Regions from separate parts of the Homo sapiens genome. Here region 2 is linked to region 1. A link means that fine-mapping ties the variant in region 1 to the expression of a gene that starts in the linked region. Tissue or cell type: whole blood. Region 1 holds a variant in brackets; the other region holds the start of a gene. All regions are shown on one strand. Distances are between the middles of the regions.

The links. PIP is the estimated chance that this variant, and not a neighbour inherited with it, causes the effect.
Region 2: BEND7 starts here. The variant in region 1 is fine-mapped to the expression of BEND7 in whole blood (TOPMed, PIP above 0.99).

Annotation. Positions count from the first base shown.
Region 1 is chr10:13,567,347-13,575,686 of GRCh38, reverse strand. No RefSeq gene overlaps it. Among named protein-coding and RNA genes, the nearest start is that of PRPF18, 15 kb to the left of the region's middle. The variant C/T (reference allele first, on the strand shown) is at 5,081.
Region 2 is chr10:13,525,156-13,533,495 of GRCh38, reverse strand. It overlaps BEND7 (BEN domain containing 7), which reads left to right and starts at 4,482. Exons shown (of 9, transcript NM_001369863.1): 1 at 4,482-5,023; 2 at 7,275-7,358. The coding sequence starts at 4,963. BEND7-DT (BEND7 divergent transcript) reads right to left here and starts at 4,892. Exons shown (of 2, transcript XR_930674.3): 1 at 4,844-4,892; 2 at 3,232-3,476.

The DNA.
Region 1 (8,340 bases):
AGCTAAATTCAAAATAAGTTTAAAATTGATGTTTTTTCTGTGCATGCAATAATGAGATAGAAGTGGAAATAGGAAAATGTTACATTTAAAAAGTACAAAATCTTAGAAATAAAGAACAAAAAAGTCCAGATTCCATGGGGAAAGGTTTATAAAATGTTATTGAAGGATATAAAGCAACACCCAGATAAAGGAATGACAAAATATGTTACTAGCTAAGGAGGCAAAATAACATAAAATCAATTTTCCAAAAAGTAATATAGAGAGTCCATGTTTCAGTTATAATTCCTTTTTTTTTTTTTCTTCAAGATGGACTCTCACTGTCACCCAGGCTGGAGTACAGTGGCATAATCTCGGCCCACTGCAACCTTCGCCTCCCAGGTTCAAGCGATTCTCCTCCCTCAGCCTCCCGAGTAGCTGGAATTACAGGCACCCACCAGCATGCCCAGCTAATTTTTGTATTTTTAGTAGAGACGAGGTTTTGCTATGTTGGCCAGGCTGGTCTTGAGCTCCTGACCTCAAGTGATCCGCCCTCCTCGGCCTCTCAAAGTGCTGGGATTACAGGCATAAGCCGCTGCACACAGCCTACATGAGGAAAGATTTATAAAGTGTCATTGAAGGATATAAAGCAACACCCAAATAAAGGAATAGCAAAATATGCTATTGGCTAAGGAGGTAAAATAACATAAAGTCAAATGTCCAAAAAGTAATATAGAGAGTCCATGTTTCACTTATAATTCTTATGGTACAGGGTTTTGTAATAGAAGAAACTGGTCTTCAAGATCATATGGAAGTATAAATTTCCAATAATAGTCATAAAAATCATGGAAAAGCATAGTGAGTTTTTGCTTCTGAGCTAGAAGGCTAACTGCCATAAGAACTGCTCTCCTACCATAAACAACTACAAAAAAAAACAGACAAAATATATAAAACAACTATTTCTCACACATTTGATAACCAGCAGTAAAGAGCTTCTCTTCTCTTCATGGAGAGAAGAGAAAACACATAAAGTGAGCCCTACCTCATGGATTCCTGGATTCTTGGAATTCTGGAGGCAGTTTCCAGGATACAGCACAGGAAGGAGAAACCCCAACAGAACCCACTTGCCTCACTGAGTAGAGGAAAAAGAAATTGCGGTTCTGGGAGATTGAAGAGGTGAAATCCATGGAGCAGAATACTGGAAAGGAGAGAGAGGCACTGGAAAGAAAGAGAGAAAGAGAGAAAGGAAGGAAGAAAGAAAGGAAGGAAGGAAGGGAGGGAGGGAAGGAGGGAAGGAGGGATGAGAGAGAGAGAGGAAGGAAAGAAGGAATGAAGGAAGGAAGGAAGGGAAAGAAAAGAATGCAGAGAATGCATTCTCTAGACAATAAATGATAAATATAGTGTTTTATGTTTAATGTGAATACACATAAACGTAATTAAGAGAGAGATGGAAGAAAACAAAACCCAAATGGAACCTCTAGAGATGAAAAACACAATATCTGAAATAAAGAATACTCTGGACAGCATTAACAGCAGATAAGGCACAGCAGAAGAAAATACTGGTGAACTTGGAGACAGTAAAAATGATTCGAAGAAAGAGAGAGAGATTTTTTTAACGTGAAGCCAGCATCAGTGACCCATGGCATAGTATCAAGCAGTTTAACGTGTCTGTAATGGAGCCCAGAAAGGTTATAGGTCTGGAGATATGTCAAGAATTAATGGCCAAATATTTCTCAAGTTTGATGGAAACTAGAAGACACTCAGATCCCAAAAGTTCATGGACCCCGGCAGAAAACTGCACCAAGGTAGATCACAGTCAAATTTCTGAGAAGCAGCGACTAAAGAACATGTGTTAAAAGCTGCTCACAAAAATTATTACATAAAGAAAAAAAAAGAAAAGAATGACTACACATTTCCTATCAGAAACCACGCAGGCCAGAGGACAAAGAAGTGACATTTTTTAAGTATTAGGGGACAAAAACTGTCAACCTAGGATTCTATACTCTGCAAAAATATCAAAAATGAAAGTAAACTGAAGGTTTTTTTCAGACAAAGGTTGAGAGAATTCATCACCAGTAAACCTGTACTATAAAGAGTATCAAAGAAAGTTCTTCAGTCTGAAGAAAAATCATGCAAAATAAAAAGGAAAGAAAAATGTAGAATTGCTAAACATCTGGATAAATATGAAAGGCTTCTCATTTTTAATATATTTTTTAAAAGTAATTGACTATTTAAATCAATAATTGCATTAAGAGGCTGGGCACAGTGGCTCAAGCCTGTAATCCCAGCACTTTGGGAGGCCAAGGCAGGCGGATCACCTGAGGTCAGGAATTCAAGACCAGCCTGGTCAACATGGCAAAACCGCGTCTCTACTAAAAATACAAAAATTAGCTGGGCGTGGTGACACACGCCTGTAATCCCAGCTACTCGGGAGGCTGAGGCAGGAGAATCGCTTGAGCCTGGGAGGCAGAGATTGCAGTGAGCTGAGATTGTGCCACTGCACTCCAGCCTGAGTGACCGAGTGAGACTCCGTCTCAAAAAAAATACATAAAATAATGATAATAATAATTGCATTAAGTGCAAATTGACTAAACAGTACAATTGAAAGGCAGAAATTATTAGACTGGATTTTCAAAAACAAATCAACTGTATGTTGTCTCATTGGTTTTTTGAAACAGAGTCTTGCTCTGTCGCCCAGGCTGTAGTACAGTGGCACGATCCAGGCTCACTGCAAGAATCTCACTTTAAATATAAAGTTAGAGGTAAAGGATGGGAAATGATATTCCCATGCAACCATTAATAAAAAGAAATGAAACTACCTGTCTTAGTCTGGTTGAGTTGCCGTAAAAAATATCTTAGGCTGGGTGATTTATAAACAATAGTTTATAGTTCTGACGCTGGGAAGCCCAAGATCAAGATGCCAGCAGATTTGGTGTCTGGTGAGAGCCTGTTCCTCATAGATGACAGCTTCGTGCTGTGTCCTCACATGGCAAAAGGGGTAAGCCTGGCCTCTTTTATAAGGGTCAAGCCTTTTATGAAGGCACTGATCCTATTCGTGAGGGCAGAGTTCTTTCAAAAAAAAAATCACCTCCCAAAGCCCCCACTTATTAATACCATCACTTTGGGGGTTAAGTTTCAACATATGAATTTTGAGAGACTACAAACATTCAGATCATAGCAGTGACTATGTTAATTAGACAAAGCAAAATTCTGAATAAGGAACATTAATAGGGAGAAAGAAGAACATTTCATAATGATAAAAATGTCACTGCACCAAGAGGACATCACAATCTCAAATGAGTATTAACATAGCGTCAAAATGCATGAAGCAAAAGATGTTAGATCTCAAAGGACAAGTAAACAAGTCTACACTTATAGGTGGAGATTTCCACACATCACTATCAGTAATTGAGAGAACAAGTGGACAGAAAATCAGCAAGGATATATAAGACTTGTACATTATCAATTAGCATGACCCAATTGAAATTTATATAACATTCTGCCCCAAACATCAGAATACATACTCTTTTTAAAGTCCATTTGGAACATGCACTAAGATCATATTCTGAAGCATTAAACAATTCTCAATAAATTTCAAATAATTAAAAATATACGGTGTATGTTCTTTGACAACAATGAATTAAACTAGAAATAGCAGAAAAATATCTAGAAAACTCCAGTATTTGGAAATTAAACAGTACGGTTACAAATAATCCATAGGATCAAAAAAGTAATCACAAGGGAAATTAGCAAGTTTCATTTTTTTAGACAGGGTCTTGCTGTCACCCAGGCTGGAGTGCAGTGGCATGATCATGGCTTGCTGCAGCCTCCACCTCCTGAGCTCAAGTGATCCTCACACCTTAGTCCCCAAAATAGCTTGTGCCATGGTCATGTGCCACCACACTCGGCTCATTTTGTTTTTATTTTTTGTAGAGATAGGGTTTCGTCACATTGCCCAGGCTGGAAATTAGTAAGTATTTTGAACTAAGCTAAGCACAGTAGTACACACTTGTCCCAGCTACTCGGGAGACAGAGGTGGGAGAACCACTTGAACCTGCGAGGCGGAGGTTTCAGTGAGCTGAGAGTGCACCACTGTACTCCAGCCTGGGCAACAGAGAGAGATTCTGTCTCAAACAAACAAACAAGCAAACAAACAAAACCCTGTGGGGTGGAAATAGAAATCTCCAAGTCCTGAGAGTTTCACTGGAGACTTATCATATATTTAAAGTAGTAACACCAATTTTGCAGTTCTTCCAGAAAATATAAGAGGGAGTACTTCCCAACTAATTTTTATGAGGCCAGTTTCCCAGAAACCAAAACCTAACAAACACATTACAGAAAAATAAAACTATAGACCAATATCACTTATGAACTTAGACACAAAATTCCTCAACCGAATATTAGCAACTTGAATCCAACAATGTATAAAAATCATTATACACCATGAAAAGGTAGGATTTTTTTCTTTCCATAGCTTTTGGAGTACAAGTGGTTTTGGTTACACAGATGAATTGTAGAGTGGTGAAGTCTAAGATTTTAGTGTGCCTGTCACCCAAGTCCTGTACATTGTACTGAATATGCAGTTTTTTATCCCCCACCGCCCTCCCACCCTCCTTCCTTCTGAATCTCTAAAGTCTATTATACCAGTGTGCATGACTTTGCATACCCATAGCTTAGCTCCCACTTACAAGTGAGAATATACTGTGTTTGATTTTCCATTCCTGAGTTACTTCTCTTGGAACAATGGCCTTCAGCTTCATCCAGGTTGCTGAAAAGACATTATTTCACTTTTTTACAGCTGAGTAGATTCTATGGTGTATATATACCACATTTTCTTTACCCACTCATCGGTTGATTGGCACTTTGGTTGATTCCATATCTTTGCAATTGTGAATTGTGCTGTGATAAATATATATATGCAGGTGTCTTCTTGATAGAATGACTTCTTTTCCTTTGGGTAGATACCCAGTAGCCAGATTGCTGGATCAAATGGTAGATCTACTTTTGTTCCTTAAGAAGTCTCCATACCACTTTCCATAGAGGTTGTACTAACTTACATTCCCACCTTCCTTTTTTAGCATGTCTGTGCCAACATCTATTGTTT[C/T]CTGACTTTGGTTTTTTTTTTTTTTTTTTTTTTTTTGAGTCAGAGTGTCGCTCTTGTTGCCCAGGCCGGAGTGCAGTGGTGCAATCTCAGCTCACTGCAACCTCCGCCTCCTGGGTTCAAGTGATTCTCTTGCCTCAACCTCCCGAGTAGCTGGGATTATAGGCGCCCGCCACCACATCCGGCTAATTTCTTGTATTTTTAGTAGAGATGGGGTTTCGCCATGTTGGGCAGGCTGGTCTCGAACTCCTGACATCAGGTGATCTGCCCACCTCAGCCTCCCAAAGTGCTGGGATTACAGGCTTGAGCCACTGCACCTGGCCTGTTTTCTGACTTTTTAATAATGGTGGTCTGGCTGGGGTAAGGTGGTATCTCTTTGTGATTTTAATTTGCATTTCCCTAATGATTAGTAATGTTGAGCATTTCTTCATATATTTGCTGGCCATTTGTATATCTTCTTTTGAGAAATGTCTATTCATGTCATTTGCCTACTTTTTGATGGGATTATTTATTTTTCTGGCTGGTTTGTTTGAGTTCCTTGTAGATTCTGGATATTAGCCCTTTGTTGGATGCATCGTTTGCAAATATTTTCTCCCATTCTGTGGGTTGTCTGTTTACTCTGATGATTATTTCTTTTGGCATGCAAAAGCTTCTTCAATACAGTCCTATTTATTTATTTATTTATTGCATTTGCTTTTGGGGCCTTAGTCACAAATTATTTTCCTAGGCCAATGTCCAGAAGGGGTTTTCCTAGGTTTTCTTCTAGAATTTTTATAGTTTCAGGTCTTAAAGTCTTTGATCCATCTCGAGTTGATTTTTTTATATGGTGAGAGACAGAGACCCGGTTTTATTCTTCTACATATGGCTATCCAGTTTTCCCAGCACCTTTTATTGAATAGGTTGTCCTTTCCCCAATTTATGTTTTTGTATGCTTTGTTAAAGACCAGTTGGTTGTAAGTATTTGGCTTTACTTCTGATTTCTCCACTCTGTTCCATTGGTCTATGTATCTACTTTCATACCAGTACCATGCCATTTTGTTTAATATAGCCTTGTAGTATAATTTGAAATCAGGTAATGTGATGCTTTCAGATTTGTTCTTTTTGCTTAGAATTGCTTTGGTTATTCAAGGACATAAAGTAGAACTTGTTCCAGATATGCAAGAGTGGCTCAACAAACAAAAATTGATTAATTAAAAATTTATCAATGTAATCCACTGTATCAACTGGCTAACAAAAAAAAATCATGTGACCATCTTAGTTGACACACACACAAAAAGCATTTGACAAAATCCAACACTCATTCATGATAAAAACTTGCAGCAAAGTAGGAAAGAGCATTTACCAAAAACCTACAGTCACCATCATATGTAATGGTGAAAGACTGAATGTTTCCTTGTTGGGTTGGAGAAACAACCCAAATATACATGTCAACTAATGAATGGATAAATGCACCATAGTATCATTCATTCAAAGGAACTGTATTCTGAAATAAAGAAGGAATGAACAGCTGATATATGCAACAACCTGGAAAGTCCCAAAACAGTATGTTAAGTGAAGTATTCCAGACACAGAATACTATATACTACATGATTCCGTTTATATGAAATTTCAGGAGCATTAAAAATATAGTGATAGAAAGATTAGTGACTGCCAGGAGCTGGGGCTTGGGCTGGGAATTGACTGCAGAGGGTCACGAAGGAGCATTTTTTGGAGGAGGAGGGAAATGGAAATATTCTATATCATAGTGGTTAAAAAGACACATGCACCCCCTCCCTAAACATCTTATCCTCTGATATATTCCATACTCTTCCTATTGTATCCACTCTTTAGCATCCTCTGCCACTGCATCCTTCTGTGTTAGCCATCACATCCAAAATATACAATCTTCACAGGTTTGCATCAAAAAGAGCACCACTGGCCGGGCGCAGTGGCTCAAGCCTGTAATCCCAGCACTTTGGGAGGCCGAGGTGGGTGGATCACCTGAGGTCAGGAGTTCGAGACCAGCCTGACTAGTATGGTGAAACCCCGTCTCTACTAAAAATGCAAAAATTAGCTGGGCATGGTGGTGTGCGCCTGTATTCCCAGCTACTCAGGAGGCTGAGACAGGAGAATTGCTTGAACCCAGGAGGCAGAGGTTGCAGTGAGCTGAGATCGTCCCACTGCACTCCAGCCTGGGTGACAGAGACTCCATCTCAAAAAAAAAAAGCACTGTTTATAACTACTTATAACTACAGCTGCTACAATTGACAGCACGTTCCAAAAGGAGGGACAGAACATTGAGAACATTGCAAGTGGCAGTAGTAATGGCCATGGGAAAAGCTGGCTATGAATGTCCCCCACGTGTTAGAAATATCTATCAAGACACCGTTAAAGACCACATTTCACCCAGTTTAACGTGACTTTTTTTTTCAGTTTTAACTTCTCTGAAAAGGGGACATATTTTTTCAGTTGATGACATCACGCAGTTATAATTGAGAATGTTTATTTTTCCTTCTTAGTGGTGAATTTTTTTAATGGTGCACTTTTTTTTAAATTATACTTTAATTTCTGGGGTACATATGCAGAATGTGCAGGTTTGTTATACAGGTATACACGTGCCATGGTGGTTTGCTGCTCCCATCAACCTGTCATCCACATTAGGTATTTCTCCTAATGCTATCCCTCCCCCAGCCCCCCACCCTCCGACAGGCCCCAGTGTGTGACGTTCCCCTCCTTGTATCTATGTGTTCTCAATGCTCAACTCCCACTTATGAGTGAGAACATGCAGTGTTTGGTTTTCTGTCCCTGTGTTAGTTTGCTGAGAATAATGGTTTCCAACTTCATCTATGTCCCTGCAAAGGACATGAACTCATCATTTTTTACAGCTGCATAGTATTCCATGGTATACATGTGCCACATTTTCTTTATCCAGTCTATCACTGATGGGCATTTGGGTTGGTTCCAAGTCTTTGCTATTGTGAACAGGGTGCACTTTTTTTATACCAGAGCAATTACATCAGAATCTCTGAATGAATGGCTGTCATAGAGTCAATAAAATATAGGATGGCTGGCCAGAAGACGCAGAGAATTTTGCTTTGGCTTTCAAGGGTAAGAAAGCAGAGGTGAGAGTCAAGGCAGAACTGGAAGCCTGGAACCCAAGTCCTGGATCTCCATGTTATGTTTGAAATTAATAGCCCCTTTCCCACCTATTCTTATCTCCAGTTAGGGCTGAAGAGGTGTGTTGCCAAGTGGTGCCAACAGCCTTTGGAATAAGAAGTCACAAA
Region 2 (8,340 bases), 42 kb after region 1:
TTTGTGGAACATTCCAACTCTCATTTTCACTTATGAAATATCTTATAAATACTGCCTCCTTTCTCTTAAATTACAATCACCAAAACCAATGAAGTAAACGGGTGTAGAAACTGCATTAGGCCAGCAACACTTGGGAAACGGCAGCTAAAAGGAGGGCATCTATTCCTTCCATGACCGTCTGATGGGTGATTGTCCTAATGTTGAAAAGTGGATATTTATACATATTAAATCTTCCTGAAGGATTCCCAGAATCTATTTAATGACAGGATATTCAATTCCAGAAAATCCAATCAAAGATTATAAAAAGCCTGAAGCCCAATAATTCCATTCTGCTCATCTTCTTTCTGAGGTGTATTAATAAAACAGTTAAACAGTAATCAAGTTGTAGACATACTACATCTACGTACATAGCATGGTTCAAATCATACATTCCTTCTAAATCTGAGCTGCCCAGTATGGTCACCTGTAACTACATGTGACTATGGACAATTTGAAATTTGGCTAGTTTGAATTGATTTGTAATCTAAGGGTAAGATGCATACCAATTTCAAAACTTTGTATAACAAAAAGCATATAAACTATCTCAATAATAATATTCTCATATTATGTGTCAAAATGATAATATTTTAATGTATTCAGTTAAATAAGATAAATTATTAAAATGAATTTCATCTGTTTATTTTTACTTTTTTCAGTGTGGCTAATAGGACATTTTAAATTACATACATAGCTTGCATTGTATTTCTATTCGACAGCAGAGCTCTAAATAAAGATGAAACTTTTCATAATGCTATTCCTCTCAGGACAGTTTTCAGGAAGAGCATTTCAAGTATTAGCGGTAAGGTTACTTCAGGTTTTCTGGCCAAATTATCTGGCTTTGTCAAAGATTGAAACCAACATGTAATCTTTATAATCAAGTGGGTTTAAGCATGGCCATATAATAAAATGTTTGCCCTGCGTGATGTCATTGAATATTTGACCAATTATCTCTGATCTCCAGTAACACATAAACCTGTGGTTCTGGAACTTTAGGGGGCCTTTAAGAATGAGGCAAAGAGTGCTAGCTTCGGCAGCACATATACTAAAATTGGAAAGAATGGGGTAAAGAAATGACTTCAGTAGATCCCCTAGAAAACTTTCCAGGACCCCTCAATACAGACATTATATTTGAGTGAAAACAAGATGGCTACAGACTGATTTGTGTCCCCCACAAACTCATATGTTGAATCCCTGACTCCTAACGTGACTGTATCTGGAGATTGAACCTTTAATAGAAGGTAATTAAGGTTAAAAGAGATCATAAAGGCGGAGCCCTAATTTGATAAGATTGGTGGCCTTACAAGAAGAGGGAGAGAAAGACAGCTCTCTTCCTATGCCATGTAAGTGTAGTGGTGTGCAAGCTAAGAAAAGGGCCCTCGCCAGAAACTGACCCTGCCAGACCTAGATCTGAAACTTGCAGCCTTTAGAATGGTAAGAAAATAAGCTGCTGTTAAGTCACCCAGTATGTGGTATTTGTTAAGATAGCCCGAACAGGCTAATACAGTAGTCCCCCTTTATCCATGATTTCAGTTACCTGCAGTCACCTATGGCCTGCAAATATTGAATGGAAACTTCCAGAAATAAACAATGCATCAATTTAAAATTGTGCCCCATTTTGAGTGGCATGATGAAATCTTTAGCCAACCTGCTCCTTCCGGCCCAGAATAGGAATCATTCTTTAGCCTAGCGTATTCACATTGTCTGCACTATCTGCTCGTTAGTCACTTGTTGGCTTGGTTATTAGAAAACATAAAACAATAAAAAACACGGTATATATGGGGTTTGATGGTAACATAGTATATACGGGGTTCGGTACTATCCTCAGGTTCAGACATCCACTGAAGGTCTTGGACATACTCCCCAAGGATAAGGATCAGCTACTATATGGATACCTGCTACTTAAAGCAATCTCACTTTATGTTTTATTTTATATTTTAATTTTTTGGTAGAGACCGGGTCTCAGGATGTTATCCAGGTTGGTCTTGAATTTCTGGCCTTAAGCAATCCTTCTGTATCCCAAAATGTTGGGATTACAGGTGTGAGCCACTACACCTGGCCCCAAGCAACCTCATTTTAATTAAACATTATTATTAATTTTAATACTAAATGTGATATATACATTTTTGTTAGATAAGAGCATAGTGATTTGCACAAAATGCAGAGTAAACAGACATTTATTTTCTCTAAAAGCTAATAAGACAAGCGTAGCCTGTGTCCTCTGCAGGCCAACTCACTCATAGACCAACTTTGGAAAGCCAGGTTAAAAAGGGTCAAGGAGAAATGACTACTATTTAAAAATATTCTTACTCAAATATTTTATTCTTAACTATATCAAAAATATTCTCTTCAGTAAATGGAATTTGCATTCCCACTTGAACTGAAAATGCTAAGTTGTTAATACCTTCTCCAGGGATTTACTTCTTGGGATGACACCTTCACTGGGTTCGTCATAGTTTAAGCATAATAAAATCTCATTATATGCTCCAAAGCATGAACGATCCGGGAAGTTCCTCAGTCAGTGTAGAACTTAGCCTTACGGCTTTGAGAATAACATTTTAAAAGGCATTACATAAAGAAAGAATGGATCCCAGCCTGGGGAACAAAATTGCATGCTTTGTTTCTTTAAAAACATCCAAAACAGCCGGACGTGGTGGTTCACGCCTGTAATCCCAGCACTTTGGGAGGCCTAGGCGGGCTGATCACTTGAGGTCAGGAGTTTGAAACCAGCCTGGCCAACATGGCGAAACCCCATCTCTACTAAAATACAAAAAATTAGCTGGGCGTGGTGGCCCATGCCTGTAATCCTAGCTACTTGGGAGGCTGAGGCAGGAAAATCGCTTGAACCCGGGAGGTGGAGGTTGCAGTAAGCTGAGATCGCACCACTGCACTCCATCCTGGGCGACAGAATGAGACTCTGTCTCAAAAAATAAAAAATAAAAAAAAATCCAAAACATCTTCAGATTTTAATGCCTGATTTTAAAGAAAGGGGTGGCAGGGAAGGAAGAAACCCAAATAGGGTAGTTGCTTTAATCACTGTTACCACTAATTTTCTGAGAGCAGCAAAGCGCGTCTAAGAACTCCAATAAATCTATACTAAATTTTATATGTCCCATACATATTTTCTGGGAAAAAGGGCCCTTGAGCTTTGAACACAATCTCAAAGGAAACAGTGACTAAAAAAGGTTAAGAACCTCTTGTTGAAGGGTTTGCTTTATTGAACGGAAGAAACAGTTCTCCCTCTCCCCTCCACGCTAGGTATAACCAGCCTTCCGGATGTGCCGCCTTTGGTATCACCCAAGATCTCGGGATGGGTACCCATCCCTGCCTCCACTGCCTGGTTTGCTGGTTACCCTGCTCTTTGGTTCTGTTTCTCCATGTGTGTTTCTGCAAGCTGCCTCAATGTCCCCCTTCCTCGGCAGTTGTCCTACTCTGTGTCCCTGAAATAAGAGCGGTTCCTCAGCGGCTGCCTCATTTGGGTGAGACCCACGTGACACTCATCACATTTGTCAACCTCCCCTTTTTCCTCTCTACTCTTTTGGGGCCACTGGCCTTTGTCCCGTGCCGGAGAGGTAGCCCCCCCATCCCCCGACTCTTTACCCTCTTCCTGGTTGGGTTTGGCAGATACTTTCACGCATGTCCCGTCATGTTCCTGTCCTACCATTCCCAGGTAGTGTGAAATTCTTTTCCTGGCCCACTCGAAAGATGTGAGAAAGAAATGGTGCCTGAAGTGCGCTCTCTGATCCCCCGAAAAGAATATTACACATAACTACTAAGCGCTTTGTGTTTGGGTCCATGATTCCGACATATGACGTGGAGAAGCATAGTGCCCTGCACCTGCCTTGACCATGGCCTCCTGAGAGTCCCCAGGGCCACCAAGCCCCCCATTCCAAGTGCTCTCCTTGAATGTGACTCGGCTCTTTCCACAATCCGCCCAGCCTGGGTTAGGGAATGGGAGCTCTCTACTATATTCTTCTCCACAATATTCTAAAACCTCCTCTCTGTCCTTCTAGAGAGAGCGCAAATGGGTAAGTTTTTTCCCCCTAAAACTTGCTTAAAATCAGCGCGTCGGGCCCCGGGGCGCCCGGGATGTGAGGGCGGGGAGGTGGTTGTCGGGGCGGTCCGCGCCCCCACGGCGAGGTGCACGGAGTTAGCTCGGCCCAGCAAGCGGCGGAGGGAGGCCAGCGAGCGGGGTCTGCGAGCGGAGGCCCGGGCGGCGGCGTCGTCCCCGGGGGCAGGCAGGCCGGCCGGGCCCGGGCCAGGGCGCTGCGCCGCGGCCTCCGCGCCTCCTCGGGGCGCCGCGCGGCCAGGCCGGCGGCGGCCCCCGGGGATGGCGGCGGCCGGGCTCCGCCAGCAGGTGGCCCTGGGGTCCCAGCGGCACCGCCCCCTCCGCCGGCGCCCCTCCTCCCGCGGGGGCGGTCAGCGCCCCGGCCGGCTCTGCACCCGCCGCCGCCCTCCCCGCAGCCCGCCCGCCGCGTCTTCGGGGCCGCCGCCGCCGCCGCCGCGACCGCAGGCTGAGCCCAGGCGGGCCGGCCGCCCCGAGCCGCCCCCCGCCTCCGCCGCCGCCGCCGCGCCCCGGCCCGGCCCGCTCCCAACGGAAAGTTGGGCTGCGGCGGGCGGCGTCTGGAACCCGCGGGCCGGCATGAGCGGGGGCCGCGGGGGCGCCTAGGGCACCGGGAGGCGGCGCCGCGCGGGGGCAACTTCGCCCGGGAGCCCACGCCGCCGGGCCCCGCGCCTGCAGCCCCGAGCCGGCTCGCGGTGGTTCCTCCCGTCCCGCGGCCTCCCCTCGCCGACTCCAGGCGCGGACCTTGGTCCCGGCGGCTCCGCCGCGGTGACACGAGCCCGCGCCGCCGCTGCCGCTGCCGCCGCTGCCGCTGCCGCCGCTGCCGCCGCCTCCTCAGCCCCCGCCGCCGCCTTCCCCGCACCATGGAGTTCTCCGAGAGGAAAAGAAGCAGGAAATCCCAGAGCTTCAAACTGGTGAGCCGAGGTAAGCGGCCGCCGGGGCGGCGGGGGCAGGCAGCGGGCGCCGCGCCCTCGGCCGCCCGCGGGGGTCCACGCTGGGGGGCGCGCCCTCCCGGAGCCCCCGGTCCTTCCCGGTCCCCCGGTGCCTCCGCCGGGCTGGCAGGCAGGGCCGCGGCCGCACACGCCGGGCGGCGGGGAAAGTTGTGCGGGGGGAGCAGGGATGTTATTTAACGTAAACAAGTCGGAGGGCAGCTCAGGAAATTAGCAAACAATGACACCGGGGGGCCCGAGCCCTCCTCGGGGCGCCTCCGGGGCAGGGCTGGGGCGGCCGCGGACCTGCCTGGCCATCAGGCCGAGCGTGGACCCTCGGACCTGAGATTTGCTGTTTTTGTTTTCTGGGGTCTTCCCCCTTCCCCCCGCCAAGAGAAGGAGGAAAAAGGATGACCGTTGTTGTTCTTTTTAAGAAGGAGAAAGAAGCTCACGCCGTGTCCAAGCCCAAGGCGGAATTGTTGACATCCAACATCTCTAGCTAGCTGATTTGGGTTGGAAAGGTGTTTTAGACTAGATCATATAGCAGTCAGATAAGCATCCTTTAAAAAAAAGAAAAAAGAAAAGAAAGAAAAGAAATCCATCTAGTTTCTGACGAATTAACAGGTGTACACCACACTCTAGGGTTTGTATTTTGTCAGGGAGGGGAAAGTGGAATACAGTCTTGTCTGTGTTCAGTTACTTGTTAAGAGTCTTTATCTTCCTGATTTGACTTTTTTTTTTAAAAAAATGATAACTCAAGAGCCATCGTGAAAATATATCTCAAAATGCATTGTCATCTTTAATTAGGGGCAGGTGACTTTTTTCATTGTAATGTCACAAGTCCTCATATTGAGTTTAGACCCGCTCTGTTTAAATGTCGTCTTTTAATCAAGTTGAGGTCAAAGCCAAACCCCAACCTGTCCACTTTTCCTCTGTCGTTTTCTCTAGCATTGGCATCAGGGTAGAAACTCCAACAACCTGCAGAAGTCACGTGTAAACTGATGAAAATTAGTGAAAAAATCGTGGACAATTGCAAGTAATCGAATTTTTCAAACTGAGCTAAGCTAGCTAAGATGTGGATTTGGTTCATCTGAAAATGCTTTGATTATAGGCATTTTGAAGATCCATTCTTATCTGCCTCCCCTAATTTAGTTTGGATACTGTTTAATGAAAGAGGCCTGAAATAGTTTCACGCATTCAAAATACTTGGCTCTTCCCACTTTCTGAGTAAATTTTTTTTTCCACATCCGTGTTGATTACTCAGTTACTTGGACTTTTAAAAGTCTCTGTCTGGGTGATTGCCCTGTTGGTGCTATCTGATTCATTCAGGAATGTAAGCTGCTTTCTTATTGATGACCTCAGAGAACTTAACTGCTTTATCTTAAAAGTGAGAGTAGTTTTGTTGACTTTGTCCTGTGAGGTCTAAGGCCAGAGAAAGGGGACTAGGTGTTAAGGAGGAACCTCTATTTTCATGCCTTAGTGACCCTGCTTTTCAAAAATAGAAGCAAAAATGCAGTAGCCTCCATAGAGAAGCTTGTAAAATACTGTATTTGAAACTTTGACTGACGTAGCAAGTTTTTCCTTTTTCCTTTTTTCTTTTTCTTTTAATTATAGGTCTGATTCTTCTCTTTCTCTGCAGGTGCAGTTTTAGAAAATAAACTTGCATATTAAATAAAGTGCAGTAGCTGAATGCGAAAGAGTCACTTGTGTGAAAGATGAAAATCTTGCTTTCTTATCCAAATCATACTACATTTGAAATAACAAATCAGTATTTTTCATGTGTGCTTGCCTTTAAGCTGCTTAAAGGCTGAGATTTTCTGGGTAAACTGAGAAAACTAGAGTGCTGGCTAAACTTTAAAGCATACTGTTGATATGCTGGTGAAAATGGGTTGTGAAGAGAAATTTGGAAACCTCCCCTGCTCTATGATTGGGCAAACATACTTGCCACCTCAAAGAAAAAAAGCCTAAAAATTGGCATCTGTGGGTACAATTTACCGTGAACATGGTGTGATCAAGCAAAGCTGTCTTCTAAAGCCAAAGTAATCTTTCAAGTTTGCGTACTCCAGAATAAGCAAAGTTTTAGGAATTATTATTGACTACAAATTCTGTGATTATTTCAGTTCTCAAAAAGTTTATTTATAAATTATAGAGTATACAAACTAAATAGAATGAGATTCTAGACTTGACTGCTTATTCCTATCTTGAGGTCCTTAGGATTCTAATTTTTGGTTGTTTTCTCATGCCAGATTATCACCACGAGGTGTATAAGATCCCAGAATTCAGCAACGATGTTAATGGGGAGGCCAAAGAGACACAGCCCATTTTTTTAGGTAGGTTCCTATGTCAATTAATACCTCAGCAAAACATCGTGACCATTTGCAATTAGGGGGAAAAAAGGAAATTGTTCAGGAACGGGAAATGTCTGCCATTGCTTAATGTATGACATTCTTTTCAAGACCTTTTATTTTACAGATTGCCAATATATCCCTTATTAACATTGCTAAAAGTTGTAATTTCAGACATAAATGTTTATTAGTGTCTACACACAGTGCTAATTATCACTCACTCACAGAGCCAGATGCTGACTGTGCAGTTTTGTGGCTCTGCGCTCACCCCATTTACATTGCATATTCGTTGGCATGCTTCACTGGCAATAGTTTGTGTAATTGGGGTATTACATCTTTGACATCTGGATAACAGAAATTCAATTTCCAGGAAGCTGCTATTTGTTTGGTTTTGCTTCTGCCTTGGGTGGGATAGAGGATTAATGTGCTGTCTTATAATGTCCCTTCACCTCTGTGGCCCAGTTGCTAATCCTGCCATGACAAAATTAAATTAAATCTACAGTCAAAAAGCATAAGGAAAATAAAAGTGTGACTGTCTGCCTAACCAGCTCTTGATAGTGCTAGTTATCATCAAGCAGCTCCTCATTTTCCTGACTTTGTGCTCCTTTCACACCAGCATTTTGGGACAGGGGGAACAGCATGCTTTCCTCTTACCATCCTTGTTCCCAGCTCACGTCAGGGATGAGCAGAGCTAAAACAGCATTTCTGAGACTTTCCAGCAAGTGTAGCTGCATGATGGGTGGGTAGGTAGCCACAAACATTGCCACCTTTTCCATGTGCAGTGTTGGTGCAAATACTGTACAGGAAAGACTTTGGATGTGCAGTTTTTTATTTGCACACAATCAGCCAAAAATGAAACCACGTAAGATTTTGCCTCTAAGAGTGAAGTACCCATAAGGTCAGGGTGGAGAGTAGATGGTGGCGTTGGGCCTCAACCTTGTCCATCTTGGACCTCTGCAATCCCAGG